7 linked regions of the Homo sapiens genome follow. The protein of the gene in region 6 purifies or fractionates together with the protein of the main gene of each other region. This does not show direct contact. Each region holds a gene or a part of one and is shown on either strand. Other genes may lie near its edges. The genes, in order: PDCD2L, CEP120, DCAF10, CBY1, EPDR1, PAGE1 and GNB1L.

Region 1 (3,500 bases), on a different chromosome or scaffold from region 6:
GCAAGAAAATTGCTTGAACCCAGGAAGGGGAGGTTGCAGTGAGCCGAGATCGCACCACTGCACTCCAGCCTGGCAAGAGAGCCCATATCACACACACACAAAAATAAATAAATAAATAAATAAATAAATAAATAAAAAATAAAAAGTCCTTATAACCATCAATTCTATTAAGGATTATTTTCAAACACCAACATGTCTTCATGCATTCCCCTTCATCATTATTCTGAAAAAGCCTACAAATGAAACAGTTCTGGTAAAGAACCAGGCCATTTCTCCAAATATTCTATTGTAATTTTTTTATTCTAATAGTAAAAAATGCTGGGTGCAGTGGCTAAAACAAATTTTTAGGCCAGGCACAATGGCTCACGCCTGTAATCCCAGCACTTTGGGAGGCTGAGGTGGGTGGATCACCTGAGGTCAGGAGTTCGAGACCAGCCTGACCAACATAGTGAAACCCCATCTCTACTAAAAATACAAAAATTAGCTGGGCATGGTGGCACATGGCTATAATCCCAGCTACTTGGGAGGCTGAGGTAGGAGAACTGCTTAAACCTGAGAGGTGGAGGTTGCAGTGAGCCGAGATCGTGCCATTGCACTCCAGCCTGGGTAACAACAGCGAAACTCAAAAAATTTTAATTGGTCAGACATGGTGGTGTGCACCTGTACTCCCAGCTACTTGGGAAACTAAGATAGATTGCCTGAGCCCAGGAGTTCAAGGCTGCATGAGCTTTGATCACACCAATTCACTCCAGCGTGGGTGACAGAGTGAGACCCTGTCTCTCTCAGTCAATCAATAAGCAAAAATGATCATTCTTACCTCTTTAGAGAGCTTTGGTTTATAAAGCCTTTCAAGATCTACCCTCTCGCTTAACTCTCAAAAAATCATGGGATGAAACAGAGAACAGAGATATCACCATCACTCTCATTTTACAGAATTGAGGATCTGAAAGCATCTCTGAGGTCCTGGGCCAGTTCTGGAGCCACAGCCAAGAGTCAATAAACAAATGGCGTTTTTCTTTTCCTTTTTCCATTTTTTCACCCCAATCTTATTATCCCAGATCAAATGGTAGTTTTCTAACTTGCCTGTCTCTGCTATAAAGACATATTAGAAATATAAAAGAAAATTTAAGAGTCAGTGAACGCGTCTTCTATAAATACTTGCCATCTCTAACTTCTGTTTGTTCATCTTCACTTTCTTAACGGCAATTATAAATAGAGCAGGGTTTTCAAGCTAACTCAAGTTGGCTGATAAGGAAGTGAAGCAAAAAGGTCCTACATACAAGTTCTGCCTGAAAGTTTCCCCAGGTCCTGTGGTGAAACTGAAGGGTAACTCTTGTGGCTGCTTCCCAATCCAGTCACCTCTCAACCTCAGCAGCACACATCCTCACCTTTGGGAAAGCAACTGATCCATGGCAATGCCTTCTCTCTGCTGATAGTCCCTCAGAAGGCTGTGGGCATGATCCAGGTTGACAAAGTCCCTGTAATCATCCTCATCTGCAACACAGATGTAGTAGGGCAGGAAGAGCGGCAGCCCAGGAGGCACAGGATGGGCAGCACCCAGGACAGCATCCTGCAGGCGGAGGTCTTGGAGCCGAGCAGTCCAGTCTACGTCTTTGGCACTGCTGGCATCATTCCCAAAATCCAAGGTAAACTGTGGTGAAGGCCCCTCCTCAGTATCACTTCCCCAGTCATCAGCACCTTCACACCAGTCCTCAGCTGCAAGGCTGTTTCCCTGTTTCTGGAAAAATACTCAGTGAATGAGGTCCGAGCACATTTGGGAGGTTTATTCTAATCCTTCGGCTCCAGCCACCCACCGCCGCGCCTTCCAGAGGGAGCCTTCACACCATCCCCTTCCCCTCTGGTACACTCCAATCAAACTTTCTAGACCCTATGTACTCAAAAGCACGTTGGAGGTGACTTAAAATACTTGTCTTTCCTTTTTGGGGTGAGTGTGACAGATATAGTACAGGGGTTATTCAACCATCCGTTCCAATATCTTTCTGTTGTGCTTCATGTATTGCAGGAACTGAAAAGAAAGAACTACCTTTCCCAGACCCCTTAGCAGCTAGGGTTTCAGATATGATTAGGGGTCTGCTAATCAGGTCTACTAGAGAGAAACATGAACTTGAGACAGAGTGAAGTAGAAAGAAAGACCACATAGCAAAAGGTAGCCATTGTGTAGACACAGACAGAACAAGGCTTTGGAGCCAACGGTTCGGTGGCAAAGACAGCCTCTAGTTCACCAGATCACACCTAAGCTTCCTGACAGCAGGAGAGGTGGCATAGCAGCTCCTTCACGGCCAGTTCTGAGGTGTGATTCTGGAGGGCATTCCTGGAGCCTCCTCCTTCAGCCTATCCACTTACTAAAAACCTCACTCCTGTGTTAAGTCTGTCTCAGCTTAAAAGCCAGGCATGGTGGCACGTGCCCGTAATCCAGCTACTCAGGAGGCTGAGGCAGGAGAATCGCTTGAACCCGGGAGGCGGAGGTTGCAGTGAGCCAAGATCACACCACTGCACTCCAGCCTGGGTGACAGAGCGACACTCGGTCTCAAAAAAAAAAAGAAAAAGCAACAGCACTTTTCTAATTATCTGCACCTGAACCCTGACAAATATAGGCAAACACCACTGTCTTCAACTTTTTATTTAAGTACTGCTAATACTATGCCTAGCAAACATCAAGAACTGGGTGCAGGCCGGGCCCAGTGTCTCACGCCTGTAATCCCAGCATTTTGGGAGGTTGAGGTGGGCGGACTGTTTGAGTCCAGGAGTTCAAGAACAGCCTGGGCAACATGACAAAATCCCATCTATACAAAAAATATGAAAATCAGCTGGGCATGGTGGCACGTGCCTGTAATCCCATCTACTCAGGAGGCTGACGTGGGAGAATGGCTTGGGCCCAAGAGGCAGAGATCATGCCACTGCACTCCAGCCTGGGTGACCAGAATGCAACCCCATCTCAAAAAACAAACAAACAAACAAACAAACTCAGTGTATATATAAAGACACATTTACAGTCAAAGGGAGGCTAAATTGTGTTCTGCAGCTACCAACTTGCCTGCCTTTTCAATAAATTCAGATTTCATCTTATGAAATGTGTTAATACATATATAGCTCTCATAAAGTATATTTACTATAAAGACACGTATACATTATCACATACAACCACATATATGTACACACCCATATATATTCCCAAACAGGAAAATCAGTAAACTGTGTGTCTCAAGACCTTCAGTGTAAGTTTAAAAAAACTACTATATATACAATGGAATATTTTTCACCCTTAAAAAAAAAAAGGAAATTCTGTCATTTGTGACAACATGGATGGAACTGGAGAACATTTTGCTAAGGGAAATAAGCCAGACACAAAGACAAATGCTGCATGTATTCACTTATATGTGGAATCTAAAACAACCTCAAAGAAGTAGAGAGTAGAGTGGTGGTTAAAGAAATCTGGAGTGGCCAGGTGTGGTGGCTCACGCCTGTAATCCCAGCACCTC
Region 2 (3,500 bases), on a different chromosome or scaffold from region 6:
TACCTTTGTCCAACTGCCTACAGTATTCAGTACAGTCACATGCTGTGCAGGTTCGCAGTCTAGAAGCAATAGGCTATTCCACCCAGCTTAGGTGCACAGTAGGCTATACCATCTAAGTTTGTTTAAGTACATTCTACAATGTTCACACAACAATAGAATTATCTAATAATGCACTTCTCATAATGTATCCCTATCTTTAATTCACGACTATACCTGTTTTTTTTTTTTTTTGAGACAGGGTCTTGGTCTGCCACTCAGGCTGCTGTGCAATGGCATAATCACAACTCACTACAGCCTCAACCTCCTGGGCTCAAGTGATCCTCCCGTTTTAGCCCCCTAAGTAGCTGGGACTGCAGGTGCTGGCTAATTTTTGTATTTTTTGTAGAGACAGGGTTTCACCATTTTGCTCAGGCTAGTCTAAAACTCCTGGGCTCAAAGCAATCTGCTCAAGTTGGCCTCCCAAAGTGCTGGGATTACAGGTGTAAGTCACCATGCCAGGCCTACTATTATATTTTTTGTACCACTTTCTATGCAATAAAAACCTTCAAATGCTGTAATTCCCACAAATGGTTAGATTTAAGTTACCCTTCATTCTTTTTAAAATAATGTATAAATTTGAATTGTGATACTCTGAGAAAGTAAAAGGTGTTTCGCAGATCTCAGATTTTTTCATGAATCCATTTCAGATAGTCAGATTAACATCTCTAGTTATAGGTTTAAAAAAACAGAAAAAGCAAATTTTTTCATTCAGTGAATCAACAATAAAAAGTAAATATTTAGTTCTTAGCTTTTTATCTTCCCACATTATATCAGGAAAAGGCAAGACCACTTTTCAAAGGCCCCTCATTACATATAGTTTGTTTTAACAAAGTTAAAATATCTAAATTCAGGTAAATAAGATAGGAAAATCAAAAAAGAGCCTTTATAATAAACCATGCAAAACCCTGTAGCAGATGCACAAATGTCATACACATAATTAGTAAATTTGTTTCTTGATCCTCAAATGCATAAACTGCTATGGATTTAAACCTATAAGAATTCCTTTTTAATAAAATACAAATTTTCAAGAATTGACTTAAATTAATTAATATCATACATACACTGTATGCATTACCTTAAGAAGGTGTCTTGCAGCTGATGAGGCATAGTTGCAAAATCAAATGCACAGTAAGACTGGGGAAGAAAAACTTCCATGTTTTTCCGAACTTCTACAGGAGGATTAGTCATAATAGGAGCTGCACTTCCAAAGAATGGATATGAGTACCTAGAATTTAAAAAAAAAAAAAAAAAAAAAAGCCTTAATGATATGGTTTACAGATGACATTCAGTCTGTTTTTTAGAAAAAAGTATAATATGAATATTATGAGCAAATACAACTTTTTAATAGAAACATGGTAGACATAGCAATCTGTCATCTGTGTAAGAAGTTCCTTGACGGCACATGTCCTACCTTTTTTATCTCTGCACTCCCAGGGACACAGGCAGTTTCTGCCATATATAAATATTCAAGAAATGCTTCCTAAATTTATTTGTAAACCTGGTTTATTTTATACAATAGTATCCTGATTTTTTATGGGATAAAAAGCCCTTAGTCAACTCCAAAAGGATGCATTCATGGTAATCTGGTAATTATGGTAATCTTGCAAGGATGCAAACAATTCGAATGTATTATGGATGAATCAAGAGAGTGACATAACAACACTGTTTCTCCCTTTCATCACAAAGCCATGCTAGATTAAATGGAAGAATGCCTGACTACTGCTGAACTTAATTTGTATTTAAAGCCAAATATAAAGATATTATAATGTTCATTTAAATTTAATCCTGTATCTTGTTATTCATATATGAGAACTAAAATTTAAACACTATTAGTAAAAACTGCTTTCCAACAAGAAGAATTCTATGTAGTCACCCAATTCCTATATAATTATATATCCATTTAAATCATGTCATTTCCGAGGAAAGTTAAATGCCCTAGAGTTTCAGCTCCCTATGCTTACCACCACACTACAGGATTTAGTGATTAAAAGAAAAATAAATAAAGGAAGTCATGCAGATAAGAAACTTTTCAAATACCAGTGTTACCTAACCAATTCCATGACACAGCTGCAAACTACAATTTCATACCAATACAGAGCATGGTATGAAAATTTATCAACAGAAAAAGTTAAGTGGCCAGCATTTTTAAAGTGCCTTAAAATGATTCAAAGACCGAACTATTAGTCCGTATCAAATGAATTCTATGAAGAGTGTTAAGTGGACTGTAACAATTTATTTCCTCAACTTTTGCAAATGCTAATGCTTGTTCCCAAAAAATTTATGAGGAGATGCTAACTACCCCAAACTAAATACATTATTGTATTATATTTAATTTATATCTCGGGCACAAAAGACTATAAAAATGTAACATCATTAAAAACAAATTATTGTGTAAAACTACTTAACTGACATATATATTATATAAAATTCTTAATATAGAACAATGTAGACACATTCCACTTACAGCTGATTAAGTATGGTGTTTAGATTCATAGCTATGAAATGGAGGTATTAGGAATATGAGCTCCCATTATAATACAGTTTTATAGAAAAATCAGATAATACACTACCTTTTTGACCAGTAATACTTTGACTAGTATTATTATTACTTTTTTTTGACCATTATTATTATTTTGACCAGTAATACTTTTTCCAGAAAAAAAGCACTTTTCAAGTTTAAGAGGCACTGTACTTTATATGGCATATTATGTATGTTTATCAAAATACATACATGTATTATATTACTTAGAATAAGTTATTATAAATGCCTACAATTATTATATCAGAATAATAAGACAGTTACCTCTCCTACTACTATGCTACCCTTGTTTGAATTCAAAATCATTAGGATATAGCCTTACCCCCTTTTAGTCCACTGATTTAACAAATGTTATAACTTCTTTGGTGACATTTCTCTCTGCAATTCCCCAAACACAGGAAAGTCCTTTCTCTTCAGAAAATAATACTTTGAAACAAAATCAAATCACACCTTAATATACAGTTGATTGGAAAACCAATCTCCAAGGCATGTATACTCCTTAAGTCTATTGAAAAGCAAAAATGATGTGATGTTGCTGGTACAGCAATCTTCTGTCCTGAAGCTACTTCTGAAGCATTGGATGTAGTCACTAGCTGGGCCAGTGAAGCAGGTACAGAAGAACTGGCTGAAATGAACATAAAATAAAACAAAATAATCACACTTGCTAACAGTTTCTCTTAAATTGTACAGATAGTTTAAGGCTATCATCTCATTTACCTTTAAGCAGGAATTGGGCTATTTTGTCTCATGAACATATGAATTGAGGTATAAGTATCTTAAAAGTAACTCACACAAAAATAACCCAGGTTTTAATTTCCATTCTAGAATTGTGTGAAAAAAGAGCTTACTCTCAATACATATAGAAAACGTACAGAACCAATAGAGAAATATACATGACTGCAGCCTAGAAGGCACTAACTTA
Region 3 (3,500 bases), on a different chromosome or scaffold from region 6:
CTTGCCAGTCAGAATAGATGCAGATGGCTGTGCTGGAACAGGGTCCTGGAATCGCCATATTGTGTAAGGGGGACTTTTGCTGCTGAATCATGGGAAGGTTTTGTGGGAGGTATCTCTAGAAGAGGGGCCTGGGTAGTCAGAGGGTGTCAGAGGGTAACTCAGGGCAGTGCCTATTTACGAATTGGTATGGAAGAAGTTCAATCTTTTAACAGTACTTCAGCTGAACCAGTACATATTGGCTAAATATTAGTCCTAGTAATAGGTCTATTTCAGGTTTTCTATTTCTTCCTTGGCCAGTTTTGCTAAGGTGTATTTTTTTAGTAAACTGGCTATTTCATCAAAGTTTTCAAGTATATAGGGATAAAGCTCATCTATCATCTTCTTCTATATTGTTGTCTCCTTTTTATTGCTGATATTAGTTATTTATGTCTTTTTTCTCTTGATGAATCTTGCCAGAGAATTGCCTATTCAATTAGCTTTTTTCAAAGAGCAGGCTTTTAAAAATCCTCTATTATATTTTCATTTTTGACATCATCAATTTTATGCTTTTACACTTATCATTTCCATACATCTACTTTCATCGGGTTTATCCTTTTACTTTTTTCCAGTTTTTTGAGTAAGATGCTTAGTTCATCAATTTTCAACCTGTCTTCAGTATGATTTCTTCTTTGATCCATAAATTATTTAAAAGTGAGTTTATAAGTCTCTAAACATGAGAATTTTTAATTAATAACTAAATGATACTAAGAACAGGGAAAATGGTTTGTGTGATAATAGTTCTTTGGTACCAGCTGAAACCTACTTTGTAGTTCAGTACATGCTCAATTTTTGTACTGGTTCTAAGTTTGCTTCAGAGGATGTTTTCACTAGTTGTTGGTAGCAGAAATCTAAATATGTGTAATACATCAAGCTTATTAATAATATTTAAATCTTCCACAGCCTTATCCATTTTTGTTTGTTGTTGTTGTTATTTTTCTTTTTTGAGACAGAATCTCACTCTGTCACCCAGGCTGGCCCACTGCCACCTCTGCCTCCCAGGTTCAAGCGATTCTCCTGCCTCAGTAGCTGGGATTACAGGCGTGTGCCACTAGGCCCTGCTAATTTTTGTGTTTTATTTATTTTTGTTGTTGCTGTTGTTATTGTTTTGAGACAGAGTCTGACTCTGTGGCCCAGGCTGGAGTACAGTGGCACAACCTCGGCTCACGGCAACCTCTACCTCCTGGGTTCAAGTGATTCTCCTGCCTCAGCCTCCCAAGTAGCTGGGATTACAGGTGCCAGCCACCACGCCTGGCTAATTTTTGTATTTTTAGTAGAGATGGGGTTTCTGCGTGCTGGCCAGGCTGGTCTCAAACTCCTGACCTCAGGTGATCCACCCACCTCGGCCTTCCGAAGTGCTGGGATTACAGGTGTGAGCCACCACACGTGGCCTAATTTTTGTATTTTTAGTAGAGATGGAGTTTCACCATGTTGGCCAGGCTGGTCTCCTGACCGCAAGTGATCTGCCCACCTCAGCCTCCCAAAGTGCTGGGATTACAGGCGTGAGCCACCATGCCCGGCCCATTTTTGTCTATCTTATCTAGATAAGTAAATGAGAGAATGCTGTTAATATTTTCCACTGAGATGGAGATTTCTCACTTCTTTCTTGTAATTCTGTCCACTTTTACTTTTTATAGTTTTATGCTATGTTTTTAGGCGCATACAAGCTTTTATATTTTAGTGAAATTAATCTTTTGTTATAGTACCTTTTTATCAGTAATGCTTTTTGTCTTAAACTTTATTTTGTTTGCTATTAATGTAGCCACAACTGTTTTGTCTTTGACGTATAATTGTTTGTTTTTTCTCATCCTTTTACTTTCAACTTTTCTAGGTTTGTATGTTTTAACTGTGTCCCTTACAAAGAAAATACAGTTCTGTTTTATTTTTAATCTAATCTAACACTGTCTATTTTTAACTGGACAGTTTAGCCCATATACGTTTATCACAGTTATTAATATTTGGATTAAAGCTTAGGTTATCTGCCTACTAGTTTTATGCTTTGTGAAATAACAAAAAATATTTTTCCTGAAATTAAGGAAATTTATTTTGTAAGCTAGTTTTCATCATGAACTATACAACTTGGTCTCCTTCCTGTATAATTTTCTCCAACTTTTTAGTTGCAGTATATGACTAGTTTTGTGCTTCCTAATTTACCTGTTCTTTTAAATAATTATCTTTTTTCCTTCCCTTCTCTGCTTCTATGGGATTGATCATGTTTTATTAGTTTTTTACCCTCTACTAATTTGGAAGTTACATTTATATTTCTATTCAAATTTTATTTCTAAATTTTAGTAAACAAATTCATTTAGTAGGTATGCTTGTCTTTGTCTAAAGATAACCAATAGTTTTTGCCTTCCACTCAAAGAGTATGGGTAGCTAGAAATCTCCAAGAATAGCCCCTCTCTTTTTACATATGACCTCTAAAAAGAATATTTCGAAAATGATGGCCACACACAGTGGCTCATGCCTGTAATCCTTGTATTTTGGGAGCTAAGGCAGGAGGATCACTTGAGCCCAGGAGTTCAAGACCAGCCTGGGCAGCATAGCGAGACCCCGTCTCTACAAAAAATAAAAAATTAGGTGGGCATGGTGGCTCATGCCTATAGTCCTAGCTGCTCAGGAGTCTGAGGCAGGAGGATCACTTAAGCCTGGGAGATCCAGTCTGCAGTGAGCTGTGACTGTACCACTGCACTACAGCCTGGGTGACAATGCGAGACCCTGTCTCAAAAACAACAACAAAAACAAATATACACAGAAATGATCATGGTGTGTTTACTATATTATCATTTCACCATAGCTAGCAAAGCAGGCATATTTTAATTGTTTTTCAAACTTCAACTCTTTAAATATCAATTTCTTTATAAGGAGACATTTTGTTGGAATGTTGCACAACAGAGGCATAACTGGCATTTTAGGTGGGACAACTAGTCCACTGTGCACACTGACCTGTGTACTGCAGGAGGTTTAGAAACTCTGGTCCTTGCTGACTACATGCTAGTAGATAGTTCTCTTCCCCCATAGTGACAACCAAAATTGCCCCACGCTTTATTCCTAAACATTCCCTTTGAGATCAGTACCATTCCAAATGAGAACTACTCTTTTAATGCATGAAAACAAAGAACAAAAATTGCAAAATAAATATATGTAGAATTGAGGGAAGAAAAAGTGAGAAACAGTTTAGTTTCACAGGAGAAATAACAAAAATATTTTTCCTTAAATTCAGGAAACTCTTTTTTTATAAGCCAGTTTTCATCATTAACTATACTACTTGGTCTCCTTCCTGTATAATTTTCCCCAAAATTTTTAGTTGCAATATATGACTAGGTACAATTAACAAAATATATCATCACTTTTTGGTTGCTTTTCCTAAAGCCAGTTTCCTTCTTGAGGCTAGGACAGAACACTGAATTTGTTCACCATCTTTAAAAAAAATGTTTTTGTTCATAATCCTAACATGGTCTCCT
Region 4 (3,500 bases), on a different chromosome or scaffold from region 6:
CTGCCTCAGCTTCCCGAGTAGCTGGGACTACAGGCGCACGCCACCACACCTGGCTAATTTTTGTATTTTTTAGTAGAGACAGGGTTTCACCATATTGGCCAGGCTGGTCTCGAACTCCTGACCTTGTGATCCGCCCACCTCAGCCTCCCAAAGTGCTGGGATTATAGACGTGAGCCACCGTGCCCGGCCTAATTTTTGTATTTTTTAAAGTAGAGTCAGAGTTTCGCCACATTGGCCAGGCTGGTCTCAAACTCCTGACCTCAAGTGATGCGCCCACCTCAGCCTCCTAAAGTGCTGGGATTACAGGCATGAGCCACTGCGCCTGGCCTAGATATTCATTTCTACAACTCACTGAGCACCCACCCCGATTCGGGACTCGGTACTGGGTATCCAGGGATGCGTATGACCAGCTCTGCCCTCAATAGCGGCTCAACACAGGGAGACCTTCAGGTAAGTGCTCAAATGTCCCTTTCTCAGTTAGGCCTTCCTGACCACCCTGTTGAAAATGAAAGCTCAGTCCCCAGTGCTCAGCCACACCCCATCCCAGGCCTATGCTTTGTTTTGCTGTCTGGCACATATCACCATCTGATATAAATTTGCTTATTTTCTGTAGCCTTCCGTTAAAGTATCTGCCCCATGAAAGCAGGGATTTGATGTTTTTCTCTCCCCTCCTTCATCCACTTCTGCATGCCCAGTGCTTAGGAGAGTGCCTGGCACATAGAAAGGTATCAATCAATAGCTCTTTAATTAATCTATTCTAGATTCTAGAATTAAACATTCTAGGCAGAAGGAGTAGCGTGCGCAGAGGAGGTTCACACGGGGCTTGGGCGGCTGCAGCACAGGGTGTGCAGAGGGCAAGGGCAGGAAGGAGAGCTGGAGTGAGGCCACCAAGGGTCATTTGTGCTGCTCCCAAGATCTGGGTGGTTATCCTGTAATAACGGGGAACTAATAAAATCCACCAGTGACCATATGGAGCGCTGTGGAGGCCTTACAAGTACCAAGGCTTACAAGTACCTGTCAGCATGTGGAAAACAATGTAGGGGAGGACCGACTTCAAGTCACGGTCAGAGACAGACGTCATGTAAGCACACTGCTGCTCTTACGCTGTGTGGGATTAGGACAGAGGATGTCCTAGAGGGACCGCCAGGTGTATCTGCATCTCTCACACATGGCAGAGAGGAAAGGGAGCCTCAGGCCTAGGGGCACCAGAAACTGAGATCCTAAGCCTCTGCCTGGCCTGCTCCACAGAATGCCCAGCTCTGGCCACAGTGGGGCTGCCCCCACCATGATTTTCACTGGGAACAGGAGACAACAGACTCTTAAGACCTGAAACCTGTAGTGAATGCTCAGCCCCCACAGCCTTGTTGTTCAACCCCACTCGCCTTCTGTGAAGACATGGCCAGTCTGCATAGCTAGCTCTGTAGGAAAAGGTCACAGAATAAAGTAGAAGTCAAATTGGATGATACTGGCTGGGCACAGTGGCTCACACCTGTAATCCTAGCACTTGGGGAGGCCAAGGCGGGTGGATCACCTGAGATCAGCAGTTCGAGACCAGCCTGGCCAACATGGTGAAACCCTGTCTCTACTAAAAGTACAAAAATTAGCCGGGCATGGTGGCGGGCAGTTGTAATCCCAGCTACTCAGGAGGCTGAGGAAGGAGAATCGCTTGAACCCGGGAGGTGGAGGTTGCAGTGAGTCAAGATCGCGCCACTGCACCCTAGCCTGTGGGACGGGAGTGAGACTCCATCTCAAAAAAGAAAAAAAAAATTTGGATATTTGGGGTCAAATATCATAATGAGATTGTCTTCTTAGGTTCTTGGATAAACAAGCTCTGACGATCATTCCCAAACAAGAGTTCAAAAATGTTTTCCGCAATAGCAATGATATGGACGGAAAGGATGCCCTCCTGCACTGATGCCTCTGGAGGACCACACTTTCCATTCAGAGACACGCTCAGCACTCAACTCATGCTGCACACCCGGCCGACCCCAGTACCGACACTCACAGAATGCAGGTTGGAGAGAGATGCCGACTTCCGAGGAGGTGTCTTCTTCGGACTGAACGTATTCCCAAAGAAAGGCATCTTTGGCCTGATGAAAGCAAAGCCAGTGCTCCCTTCTCCTAGGGTCAGAAAAAGTCAGGGGTACAAGCAGCTGGATCACTGACCTTATGCCATTGTCTTCAAATCTTGAAGACATACATTTTATCATGTGGCTACTAACGATCCTGGTGCTATGGTTTGAATGTCCCCACCAAAACTCATGTTGAAATTGAATTGCCATTGTTTAACAGTATAAGGGGTGACTGGGCCATGTGAGCTCTGCTCTCATGAATGGATTAATGCCATTGTCATGGAGTAGGTTAGTTTTCTCTGGCGTGGGCTCCTGGCAAAAGGATGAGTTCTGCTGCCATGCTGTCTGTCTCATGCACTTGCTCACCATGTGAGCCTTCTGCCTCACACAGGATGACCCTCACCAGATACTTGCACCATGCTCTTGGACTTCCCAGTCTCCAGAACTGTGAGCCAAATAAACTTCTTTTCTTTATAAATTACCCAGTCTGTGGTAATCTGTAACAGCAGCACAAAATGGATTAAGACGCCTGGTAATAGCTCCCATGTGCTGAACGCTCCCTTTGTGCTACGCGGTATGCTAAGATTTTTTGGGTGGCACACAGTGGCGCATGCCTGTAGTCCCAATTACTTGGGAAGCTGAGGCTGGGGGGTCGCTGGAGCCCAGGGAGGTTGAGGCTGCAGTGAGCTGTGGTCCACTGCTGCTCTCCAGTCTAGGCTACAGAATGAGAGACCATGTCTCAAAAAAAAAAAGTTAGCCTGGCATGGTGGCACACAACTACAGTCTCAGTGACTCAGGAGGCTGAGGTAGGCAGATCACTTGAGCCCAGGAGTTTAAGACCAGCCTGGCCAACATGGCAAAACTCTGTCTCTACAAAAAATACAAAAATTAGCCAGGTATGGTGGTGCGTGCCTGTAGTCTCAGCTATTCAGTAGGCTTAGGTGGGAGGATCACTTGAACCTATGAGTCTGAGCCTCCAGTGAGCTATGATCATGCCACTGCACTCCAGCCTGAGTCAAAGAGCATTACCCTGTCTCTAAAAAAAAAAAAATAAAGAAAGAAATGGCTGGGCACGGTGGCTCATATCTGTAATCCCAGCACTTTGGGAGGCCGAGGCGGGCAAATCAAGAGGTCAGGAGTTTGAGACCAGCCTGGCCAACGTGGTGAAACCCTGTCTCTACTAAAAATACAAAAAATTAGCTGGGCATAGTGGCGGGTGCCTGTAATCCCAGCTAGTTGGGAGGCTGAGGCAGGAAAATTGCTTGAACCCAGGAGGCAGAGGTTGCAGTGAGCCGAGATTGCGCCACTGCACTCCAGCCTGGGTGACAGAGCAAGACTCTGTCTCAAAAATAAATTAAAAAAATAAATAAATAAATGAGTAAAGCTATGCTTATATTTCCTTTCCAGATTGATAACAGTGCTCCTCAC
Region 5 (3,500 bases), on a different chromosome or scaffold from region 6:
AATTCCTTGACTGAGTGCTGTGAGAGAAAATGCACCACACAAGAGTCAAGTCCTCCTGTGTCTCTGTGGGTAAACAAAAGTTCACAAACCAGCTCTTCAGCCGGAGCCATATCTTCCCCATGTTTGTATGCTAAGCACAGGGTCTGGCATATACTAGGTCCTTGGTCAAAATTTGCCCAGTGAATATACACTTTTGACCTCAATTTTTTTTTTTTTTTTTTGATGGTGGACGGGATCTCACCCAGGCTGTATGTAGTGCGGTGGCATGATCATGGCTCACTGAAGCTTTGAACTCCCAGGCTCAAGTGATCCTCTTACTTCAACCTCCCAAGTAGCTGGGACTACAGCTGTGCACTGCCATGTCTGGCTAATTTTTAAAATTTTTTTTCTAGAGACAGGGGTCTCACTATGTTGCCCAGGCCGGTCTCAAACTCCTGGGCTCAAAACGTACTCCATCCTCGGCCTCCCAAAGTGCTGGGATTACAGGGATGAGCCATCATGCTCGGTCTGACCTGTGAATTCTAATTATTTCATATGCAGGTTGTTTCATGTGCCTAGTGTTTATAAACGTTAAGTGATTGCCTAGCTAGTAATTTCTTTCTATTTTAAAAGTAATATCTATCAAAGGTGTTTGTGCTGTTAAAAGGCACGAGGATGGTAACATGAAGTCCCAAACTACTTCTTTCCATCTGTGTTTCAGATTATTTGAATATATTTTGCTGTATAAGGATGGAGTGATGTTTCAGATTGACCAAGCCACCAAGCAGTGCTCAAAGATGACCCTGACACAGCCCTGGGATCCTCTTGACATTCCTCAAAACTCCACCTTTGAAGACCAGTACTCCATCGGGGGGCCTCAGGAGCAGATCACCGTCCAGGAGTGGTCGGACAGAAAGTCAGCTAGATCCTGTAAGGGTTCAAAGAATCTAAGCATTGTATTCAGCATGCATGATGGGGAAAAAGGTTTAAGTCCTTTAAGGAAGGTAGTTTTTAGGGAAACATCCGCTTAATCAAAAATTTTTTAAAGCCTCCACTTAGGTCTGCAGGTTACTTTGCTCACTATGTGGCAACGGGATCTAAGCTTCATATTTGAAACACCTCAGCCTTCTAGTGCCACCTGCACCTCTCTGCCACTTTGGCTCCTGTGAACTTAGCCTTGATTTTGACATTTTATGGTCGTCCCGAGGTCTGTGACATGGAAGGCATCTGTCTAAGGCACACATTTGAATTGGGTGCCTCCTTTTCTTTCCCCCACTTCCTAAAGTTGCAGGGGTCAAATCTACTCCCATCATGCTGAGTGTGCAAACCAGCCTACTTTTATGTGAAGCCATTCTCTGCCCTGCTGCTGATATACGCCTATCCCAAGACAGTTTTTACCACACAGGCATTCATGCTGTGGAACACAGTATGGTGATTTCTCAAAAAATTAAAGATAAGACTGCCATATGACCCAGCAACTCCACTTCTGTATATATATATATGCCCCAAAGAATTGAACGCAGAGACTCAAACAGATATTTGTACACCCATGTCCACAGCAGCATTATTCACAATTGCCAAAAGGTGGAAACCCAAATGTTCATCAACAGATAAATGGATAAACAAAATCTGGTATAGTCATACAACAGAATATTATTCAGCCTTAAAAAGGAAGGAAACACCAGCACATGCTACAGCCTGAGTAAACCTTGAGGACATAATGTTAAGAGAAACAATGCAGGCAGAAAATGACAAATACAGTACAATCCCACTTACATGAGGTATGTAGAGTCGTCAAATTCATAGAGACAGAAAATCGAATGATGAGTTCCAGGAGCTGGGAGAGGAGGAATGGGAAGTTCGTGTTTAATGGAGACAGAGTTTCAGTTTGGGAAGATGAAAAAAGTTCTGGAGATGGATGGTGCTGATGGTCAACAAATGTGAATGTACTCAAGGCCACCAAACACTTAAAAATGGTAAAATGGTAAATTTTATGTTATGTACATTTTACCACCATAAGAAAAAATATGAACTTCTTGCCTGTCTTCTTTATTTAAAAGTCAACTTTTTTCCTCTTATAGATGAAACCTGGATTGGCATCTATACAGTCAAGGATTGCTATCCTGTCCAGGAAACCTTTACCATAAACTACAGTGTGATATTGTCTACGCGGTTTTTTGACATCCAGCTGGGTATTAAAGACCCCTCGGTGTTTACCCCTCCAAGCACGTGCCAGATGGCCCAACTGGAGAAGATGAGCGAAGACTGCTCCTGGTGAGCCTGTGCATAGGGAAGCGGCAGCATCGGATGTCAGCCCCCTGCGGCCCCAGCTGGAGATGGATATGAGACTAGTCAAGATGTGAATGCTAATTGGAGAGAAATATAATTTTAGGAAGATGCACATTGATGTGGGGTTTTGATGTGTCTGATTTTGACTACTCAAGCTCTGTTTACAGAAGAAAATTGAATGGCGAGGGTGTGGCCATATGAACTGACTAGATGGCTAATATGGACACTTTGGGTATTTCTAATGCCTGTTCAGGGCTGGTTTTCTGCATGCACGGGTATACACATAATGCAGTGCCATGCACATAGGGAAGGGTCAGTAAGAGAAGTTTGCCTTGGCAGCAAGTATTTATTGTTGACATTATTCAGAATTAGTGATAATAAAAAGCAGAGTGATTTTGGTCAATTTTATTATTAATTCTTAAATTCCCTGCAGAGAATGCCCCCTTTATTGCTGCACCAGGGTTGGCATTGCTCCCACTGAGCCCTACTCCACCCTGTCCCTGCACTCCCTTGGTTGCCAAAAAAATGATAACTTAAATCCCTTCCAGACTTAAGAATTTTATGGCATGGCCCAATTGATATAAACATTTAGAAGGAAATGAAAAGCTAAAATAGGAAGTAATTATTCCTCTAAAGAAACATTTTGAGCAAGGCAGTTTAGAGAATCCTAATGTCTACACTGGCATAGCACGAGCCATGTAAGCTTCTTTTTTTTCTATGCAAGAGTATTGATGTATGTGCTGAATCTTCACAGACTTGTCAATACACAGGCAGTATTCTAAAATAGCACTGAACAGGGAGTCAGGAGACTATTGTCTCCTAAACCCAGGACTAGAGTTCCCTCGTACTGTCACTCCTTTGGTCATTAAATGCACTGGGCTTGCCCGCACTTTGGCCTTCCTAGAACACTGCTTCATAACCTCTCTGTCTGACTTCTGCATCTCCTTCCAGGTCAGCTCATTCACAAGAGTTGCTCCCAAGCCTGGATGAGTTGCACCTTGCATCTTGAGCATGCATTTCTCACAATAATTATTAAGCTGTGTGATAATTTCTGCTTTCAGGACACTCATCCATTATCTTGGCTGTGAGCTCCTTGGGTACGGGTACCTTGTATGTTTACTTTTATATCCCTAGCACAAAGCAAGTGCCTGGCACATAGTCAGTGCCCTAAGTATTCGTAGAGTGAAGAATGCCAGCCTCTCTTGTCCCTGGTTTCCTTATGTGTTGAATGT
Region 6 (3,019 bases):
GAATATAAGTATTATACATGTCCTGTGGTTTATCCTTAGATTGTCATTTAGTAGAAAGGTCTCAAACTGGGCTTAGTGCTGTGAAATCATAGTCCCAGCTACTTGGGAGGCTGAGGTGAGAGGATCGCTTGAGCCTAGGGTTCAAGACCAGCCTGGGAAACATAGGGAGACCTCATCGCAAATAAATAAATAAATAAATAATAAATGTTTCGTTATATAGGAAAACAAACATGTAAAGTTTGTTCTTAGCTGCTGGTAATGTTGCAACCATAACTCCTTACTGAACTATAACACTTAAAATTAGTTACCATGGTAAATTTTATGTTATGTGTATTTTTTAACACAATTAAAAAAAAACTTCTGTCTTCCTAAAGTTCAGTGTAGTTGTCATATATTCTTACAAGTTTTTACTTTATATATTTTCAAGACATAACATTTGTAGAAAATTTGCAAGAATAGTACAATGAACTCATATACTTTTCACCTAGATTCACCAATTGTTAATAGCTTCTGCTCCATTGTTTTCATGTCTCTTCCCTCCCTCTCTTACCCTGCTGCCCACACACTCACACACACACTTACGGATATTATGTTTACTCTTATTAATGCTGCATTGTTCAGATAAGGTTTCAGCTATTATGGCCCTTTACCCTAAGTACTTGAAAGTGTTTATATATCCTCAGAACAAAGAAAAAGTCATTCCTTGGATAATCACTGCACAATGATCAAACTCAGGACATTTAACAATGAGAACCTGCAGTCATTTAATACACAGAGTATACTCAGATTTTGCCAGTTATCCAGATAATTTTCTTTTTTCTTTCTTATTTTTTTTTTTCAGACGGAGTCTCACTCTGTTGCCCAGGTTGGAGTGCAGTGGCAAGATCTCGGCTCTCTCTAAACTCTGCCTCCCAGGCTCAAGAGATTCTCATGCCTCAGCCTCCTGAGTAGTTGGGACTACAGGCAATGGCCACCGCACCTGCCTAATTTATTTTTTCTTTTGTATTTTTAGCAGAGCCTGGGTTTCACCATGTTGGCCAGGCTGGTCTCTAACTCCTGACCTCAGATGATCCGCCCACCTCGGTCTCCCAAAGTGCTGGGATTCCAGGTGTGAGCCACCACGCCCGGCTGGCTGATACTGACATTTTTCAAGAGGATAGACCAGTTGGTTTGCGGAACGTTTAGCACTTTGGGCTTTTTTGTGTAGTTTCTAAAGACTGTTTTTTCACTCACCATTTATTGGTGCCTACTCATGCCATATAACTTGCTAGGTGCTAGGAGTCTAAATGCTAATGAGAGACAGGATGTCAGCCTTGAGTCATTTAATATAATAAGGACAATCAGAAATACAATAACAGATAAGTGCAAAGGAGGCAACAAAGTTGTCTGAGGGCAGTCTTCAGAAAGGAAGAGGGTAATATTTGGAAAACCCTGTTTTCCTGTCTTCTGCCAACAGACTCCTGAAATAATGTTCTTGGGATTCTTATCAACACATTTATTATTACAGTACCTAAAGCTTTTATTTAATAAGACCAAGAGCATGAATATTATTTTCTTATTCATATTTCATGTGTTGCTGCTTAAAATGATAATTTTGTTTTATCTTTAAGGGCAGGAGCCTGAAGCTGATAGCCAGGAACTGGTTCAGCCAAAGACTGGGTGTGAGCTTGGAGATGGTCCTGATACCAAGAGGGTGTGCCTGCGAAATGAAGAGCAGATGAAACTGCCCGCAGAAGGTAGGTAGTCCATTAAGCATGCAAATTGTAGGGTGTCTGTTTCCACAGTATTATAATTTTCTTTTTTTTCTGAGATGGAGTCTCACTCTGTCACCCAGGCTGGAGTGCAGTGGCTCAATCTTGGCTCACTGCAACATCCACCTGCTGGGTTTAAGTGATTCTCCTGCCTCAGCCTCCCGAGCAGCTAGGATTACAGGCGTATGCCACCACAGGCACCTAATTTTTGTAATTTTAGTAGAGACGGGGTTTTGTCATGTTGCACAGGCAGGTGTCGAACTCCTGACCTCAGATGATCCACCCAGCTTAGCCTCCCAAAGTCCTGAGGTTACAGCCCTGCCACAGTGCCTGACAAATAAATGTTTCTTTTTTTTTTTTTTTTGTATTTTAGTAGAGACGGGATTTCACCACATTAGCCAGGCTGGTCTTGAACTCCCGACCTCAAGTGATCTGCCCACCTTGGCATCCCAAAATGTTGGCATTAAAGGTGTGAGCCACCATGCCTGGCCCAGATAATTTCCTTTATAGAATTTCTTTTTCTGATCCAGAGTCCAGTTCAAGATCACGTCTTACATGTGCTTGTCATGTGTTTCTAGTTTCCTTTAATCTGGAATGTTTCCTTAATTTTTCTTTGTCATTCAGGATACGGACATTTTTGAAGAGGATAGACAAGTTGGTGTGCAGAATGTTCAGGATTTGGGGATTTTTCATGTATTTTTTAAAGAACTTTTTTCACTCAGCGTTTATTGGTGGCTACTCATGCCATGTAGGAGTCTAAGTGCCAGGAGTGTAAGTGCTGTGAGAGACAGGGTTTCAGTCTTGAGTCATTTAATATGATAAGGACAATCAGAAGTAGAATAATAAAGAAGTGCAAAGGCAGCAACAAAGTTGTCTGAGGGCAGTCTTCGGAAAGGAAGAGGGTAATATTTGGAAAACCCTGTTTTCCTGTTTTCTGCCAACAGACTCCTGAAATCATGTTCTTGGGATTCTTATCAACACATTTATTATTACACTAGTGAAAGCTTTTATTTAATAACACTGAGAGCATGAATATTATTTTCTTGTTCATATTTCATGTTTTACTGCTTAAATTGATTATATATATACACATATATATGTGTATATATACACATATATATGTGTATATATACACATATATACACATATATACACATATATATGTGTGTATATACACATATATACACATATATACACATATATATGTGTGTATATACACACATATATATACACATATATATGTGTGTATATACACACATATATATACA
Region 7 (3,076 bases), on a different chromosome or scaffold from region 6:
TGCATCTTTTCCAAGCTGGATGTCTGGAGCTGAGACCGTTTCTTCTTCTGTTGTGGGGGTTTCAAGGCTGGTCAGACGCATGGTGATTCATCACGACCCAGGTTCTGTTGACACAAAGGCCGACCTGTCCAGAGCCACATGGCTCTGCTGTGGACACCACGGAGCAGCTCAAGAGAGGAACAGGACCAGGAGGGCTGCACTGCTCTTGGCCGGCTTGGACCCCAGCACCGGTTCTGCTGCTCTCCCAGGCAGCTCAGCCAGGTGAATGAAAGTCCTGGGCCTGCCCTCCACAGGACGTCTATAAGGCCTCAGAAGCTGGATCTGCCTGGCAAGGGGGGCCCTATCTGCCTAGCCACCCAGATGCGGGCACGTGGCCCCGTTGTGCACTGGAGGGGTGAGGGCTGTGTTAGGCATGCAGGACTCACGCTGTCCCGACTCCATCCCTGCACACTGAGATTCAGAACAAGATGTGCCTGGACACTGCTCAACGCCACATGGCCTGGGGCAGGGAGCTCAAGGCCAGGCTAGGGGGCAGCCGCCTGCCATCCACCCTGCTTGTGCCTTTGACTGAAAGCACGAGGGCCAGGGGCCAACTCAGGGTCTGTACACCCTGCCCACAGCTCTTCATGGCCTCTATGTAAGACATCAGCAGGCAGTGCCACTCGCCAACCTCATGCTGGCATGCACACCTGGGCCCTCATGTGGGATACCCACCTCGTGGCTGTGGGACGTAGGGAGTTTTGTAACTACAGTGATGATGCCAAAGATGACAGGGACATAAACAGGGGAAGGGGTAGAGGCCCAGAACCCTCAGGGTGGGAGCTGAGGCGGGGCAGATGTGCCTTTGGCAAGGCTGTCAAGGGCATGCAGGGAAACTGCAAAGCCAATTCCCACTCCACCTACCCTGCCGCTGTCATGGGGATGTCAGAACCTGACACCTTCCCTCACTGTGACAGCCTGTGATGAGCACCCAGGGCACAGCTCCCTCAGCACCTGCAGTCACTGCAGCCTAAACCCAGGACCCTTCCCCTCCCTGACACCTCAGTGATATGAAAATACCTCCCGGAGTGCCCTACGCATCCTGGCGGCTATAGGACACTCGAGGAAAAGCAGCAGGGCCCCCCTCTCCAAAGGTCCTGGGCACCTGGTGGCCACCCTTGTCCAACGGAGCCAGGCCAGTACCCGAGCCAGGTGGTCTCCAAGCTTGGGCCAGGGGCCGCTTTCCCGGCCAGCACTGACATTCCCGTTTGATGGAACGGTCCCCATGGTACCTCTGACCAACAGAGAAGTGTGGTCACAGGACTCCTCAAGGACTCCGGGCCCCCCAGCAACCATGTTCCTCACAGTGGGGTTGGGGAGGCACGGCCTTGGGACCCCCTGCAGTGGGTGCACAGGTCTCACTGACAAATCCAACACCCCCATCCCCAGGCCTTGGAAGCCCTCCTCGGCTGTACCCCACGGCGGCTGGCCATGTCCACTTCACTCAGTGCAGCCACCCTCAGGCTGTAATCCAGCCCCCACCCCCAGCCCGGCACTGGAGCCTTCCTGGCCCCAAGCTGCAGCGCCCAGTCCAGCCCTCCGTTTGGCAGGTCTGTTCCGGGAACTCCCCTGATCCACCCCTGCTCCGGCCACCTGGATCCCACACCCTTCCGATCCGTCCCACACATGTTCAGATTTCTGCCTGGAAACCTGGAAATGCCATGTGGTCCTGCAGGAGGCTGGTGCCACTCTCAGGGTCACCCTCTGTATCTCATCCTGGGGGTCTGCTGGACTCGAGTCTAGTTCTAGGACTAGAAGCCCAGGTGGGGGTCCCAAGGAGCATCGGCAGGGCCTTGCAGGGCAACTGCCTCAAGGGAGGCCACCCCGGGCCTTCAGCTAGAGGGGCTCTTCCGGCAATCCGGGCAGACACAGGCGTGTGTGGTCCCAGCTTCTCTGGATCTGCCCATGGGCCCCACTCCAATATTCAGGGTCATGGTTCTTTCCCAATCAACACCCGCTTTTAGGAGGAGACGACCGGCCAGGCTGGGCCCGGCTGCATGCAGTGTGAGGCTCTGGCTGCTAAGTCCTGCTCTTGCTGTGTTGTGCCCTGGGGGCCACCCTGTGTGCAGCCGCAGCTGTGACTGTGGCCTTGGCCACTGTGAGGCGGTGCTTGTCACACTCCCTTGCTGCTCTCGTGCCTTCTGCCCAGCACTCACCTGGAGGTGCACCCTGTGCGCCTTCCCCACTGCACCCTCTGCGGGCAGGCGTGCCCTCCCGGATCCCACATCTGGCCTGGCCCTGTGCGCTGCAAGCCCCCCTTGCCGTCCCTCACAGGCACCTTTCTCTGCTTCACTCTTTAGGGAGTTCAGTTACTTCCTGATCCTGATCCTGGCCTCAACCTGTGTGTTGGGAGCTCCTGGCCTCCTCGGGGTGAGGGGTCATGTGGACATCGACGCAGCTATGGTTGGGGCCTATCATCTCCTGAGGCCTGGCCCAGGAAACCCACACTCGGGGTGGCCCATTCAACAGCAGGTGTGAGGGTGGGGCTGAGCATCCTGCCTGGTGGGGGTCTGAGGGCACTGATGCTAAGTGGGGGACCAGGGCCTCCTCAGGGAGCTCCCACCTCAAGCCTGCAACTTGGCAATGGAAATTTATTATAAAATACCCTCAGCTGGCAACACAGCAGGCCCAAGCCAACGTCTCCTGCAGGCCTCGGACGGCCAGGGCTCTGGCTGGCCCCCAGAGTCACCGTCCTGTGATGAGGCACTCCACAAAAGGAAATACCAACCTCATGAAGACAGCGGGGACTCCATGGTCCTTGGGCCATGACTTGCTGGTCCTCAGAGGCCCTTGAGGTTTCAGGCCAAGGCTGGGGCCTGATGCCCACCTCCCTGCCCGCCCTCCTCGTCTCCCGGGAAGGGAGTGGGTGAGTCATGCGCGTGGGTAGAGTGACCAGAGGCTGATCCGCTGATCCTTGGAGCCCGCGGCCAGCAAGCCATCGGCGGTGAAGGCCACGCACTGGACAGCGGCGCTGTGGAAGGCCAGCACGGCCAGTGGCTGCATCGTCCGCCAGTGGAACACGCGGATGCGGTGGTCC

What was found.
Region 1: the proteins of PAGE1 (region 6) and PDCD2L purify together in Homo sapiens (affinity purification with mass spectrometry; one large-scale study listed by BioGRID and IntAct). This does not show direct contact.
Region 2: the proteins of PAGE1 (region 6) and CEP120 purify together in Homo sapiens (affinity purification with mass spectrometry; one large-scale study listed by BioGRID and IntAct). This does not show direct contact.
Region 3: the proteins of PAGE1 (region 6) and DCAF10 purify together in Homo sapiens (co-immunoprecipitation; 2 studies listed by BioGRID and IntAct, with this or other methods). This does not show direct contact.
Region 4: the proteins of PAGE1 (region 6) and CBY1 purify together in Homo sapiens (affinity purification with mass spectrometry; one large-scale study listed by BioGRID and IntAct). This does not show direct contact.
Region 5: the proteins of PAGE1 (region 6) and EPDR1 purify together in Homo sapiens (co-immunoprecipitation; one large-scale study listed by IntAct). This does not show direct contact.
Region 7: the proteins of PAGE1 (region 6) and GNB1L purify together in Homo sapiens (affinity purification with mass spectrometry; one large-scale study listed by BioGRID and IntAct). This does not show direct contact.

What each region holds. Positions count from the first base shown.
Region 1 is NC_000019.10:34,407,399-34,410,898, reverse strand, and holds part of PDCD2L (programmed cell death protein 2-like), read right to left. Parts: intron 1,739-3,500; coding exon 1,389-1,738; intron 1-1,388. UniProt on the Homo sapiens protein: Over-expression suppresses AP1, CREB, NFAT, and NF-kB transcriptional activation, and delays cell cycle progression at S phase.
Region 2 is NC_000005.10:123,385,404-123,388,903, forward strand, and holds part of CEP120 (centrosomal protein of 120 kDa), read right to left. Parts: intron 3,204-3,500; coding exon 3,029-3,203; exon of another isoform or gene 2,901-3,028; intron 1,265-2,900; coding exon 1,115-1,264; intron 1-1,114. UniProt on the Homo sapiens protein: Plays a role in the microtubule-dependent coupling of the nucleus and the centrosome.
Region 3 is NC_000009.12:37,842,297-37,845,796, reverse strand, and holds part of DCAF10 (DDB1- and CUL4-associated factor 10), read right to left. Parts: intron 1-3,500. UniProt on the Homo sapiens protein: May function as a substrate receptor for CUL4-DDB1 E3 ubiquitin-protein ligase complex.
Region 4 is NC_000022.11:38,666,638-38,670,137, reverse strand, and holds part of CBY1 (protein chibby homolog 1), read right to left. Parts: intron 2,122-3,500; 5' UTR 2,084-2,121; coding exon 2,006-2,083; intron 1-2,005. UniProt on the Homo sapiens protein: Inhibits the Wnt/Wingless pathway by binding to CTNNB1/beta-catenin and inhibiting beta-catenin-mediated transcriptional activation through competition with TCF/LEF transcription factors.
Region 5 is NC_000007.14:37,948,140-37,951,639, forward strand, and holds part of EPDR1 (mammalian ependymin-related protein 1 isoform 1 precursor), read left to right. Parts: intron 1-700; coding exon 701-909; intron 910-2,060; coding exon 2,061-2,257; 3' UTR 2,258-3,500. UniProt on the Homo sapiens protein: Binds anionic lipids and gangliosides at acidic pH.
Region 6 is NC_000023.11:49,689,966-49,692,984, reverse strand, and holds part of PAGE1 (P antigen family member 1), read left to right. Parts: intron 1-1,610; coding exon 1,611-1,736; intron 1,737-3,019.
Region 7 is NC_000022.11:19,785,799-19,788,874, forward strand, and holds part of GNB1L (guanine nucleotide-binding protein subunit beta-like protein 1), read right to left. Parts: coding exon 2,911-3,076; 3' UTR 1-2,910. UniProt on the Homo sapiens protein: Acts as a critical regulator of DNA damage response (DDR) signaling via specifically regulating phosphatidylinositol 3-kinase-related protein kinase (PIKK) family proteins.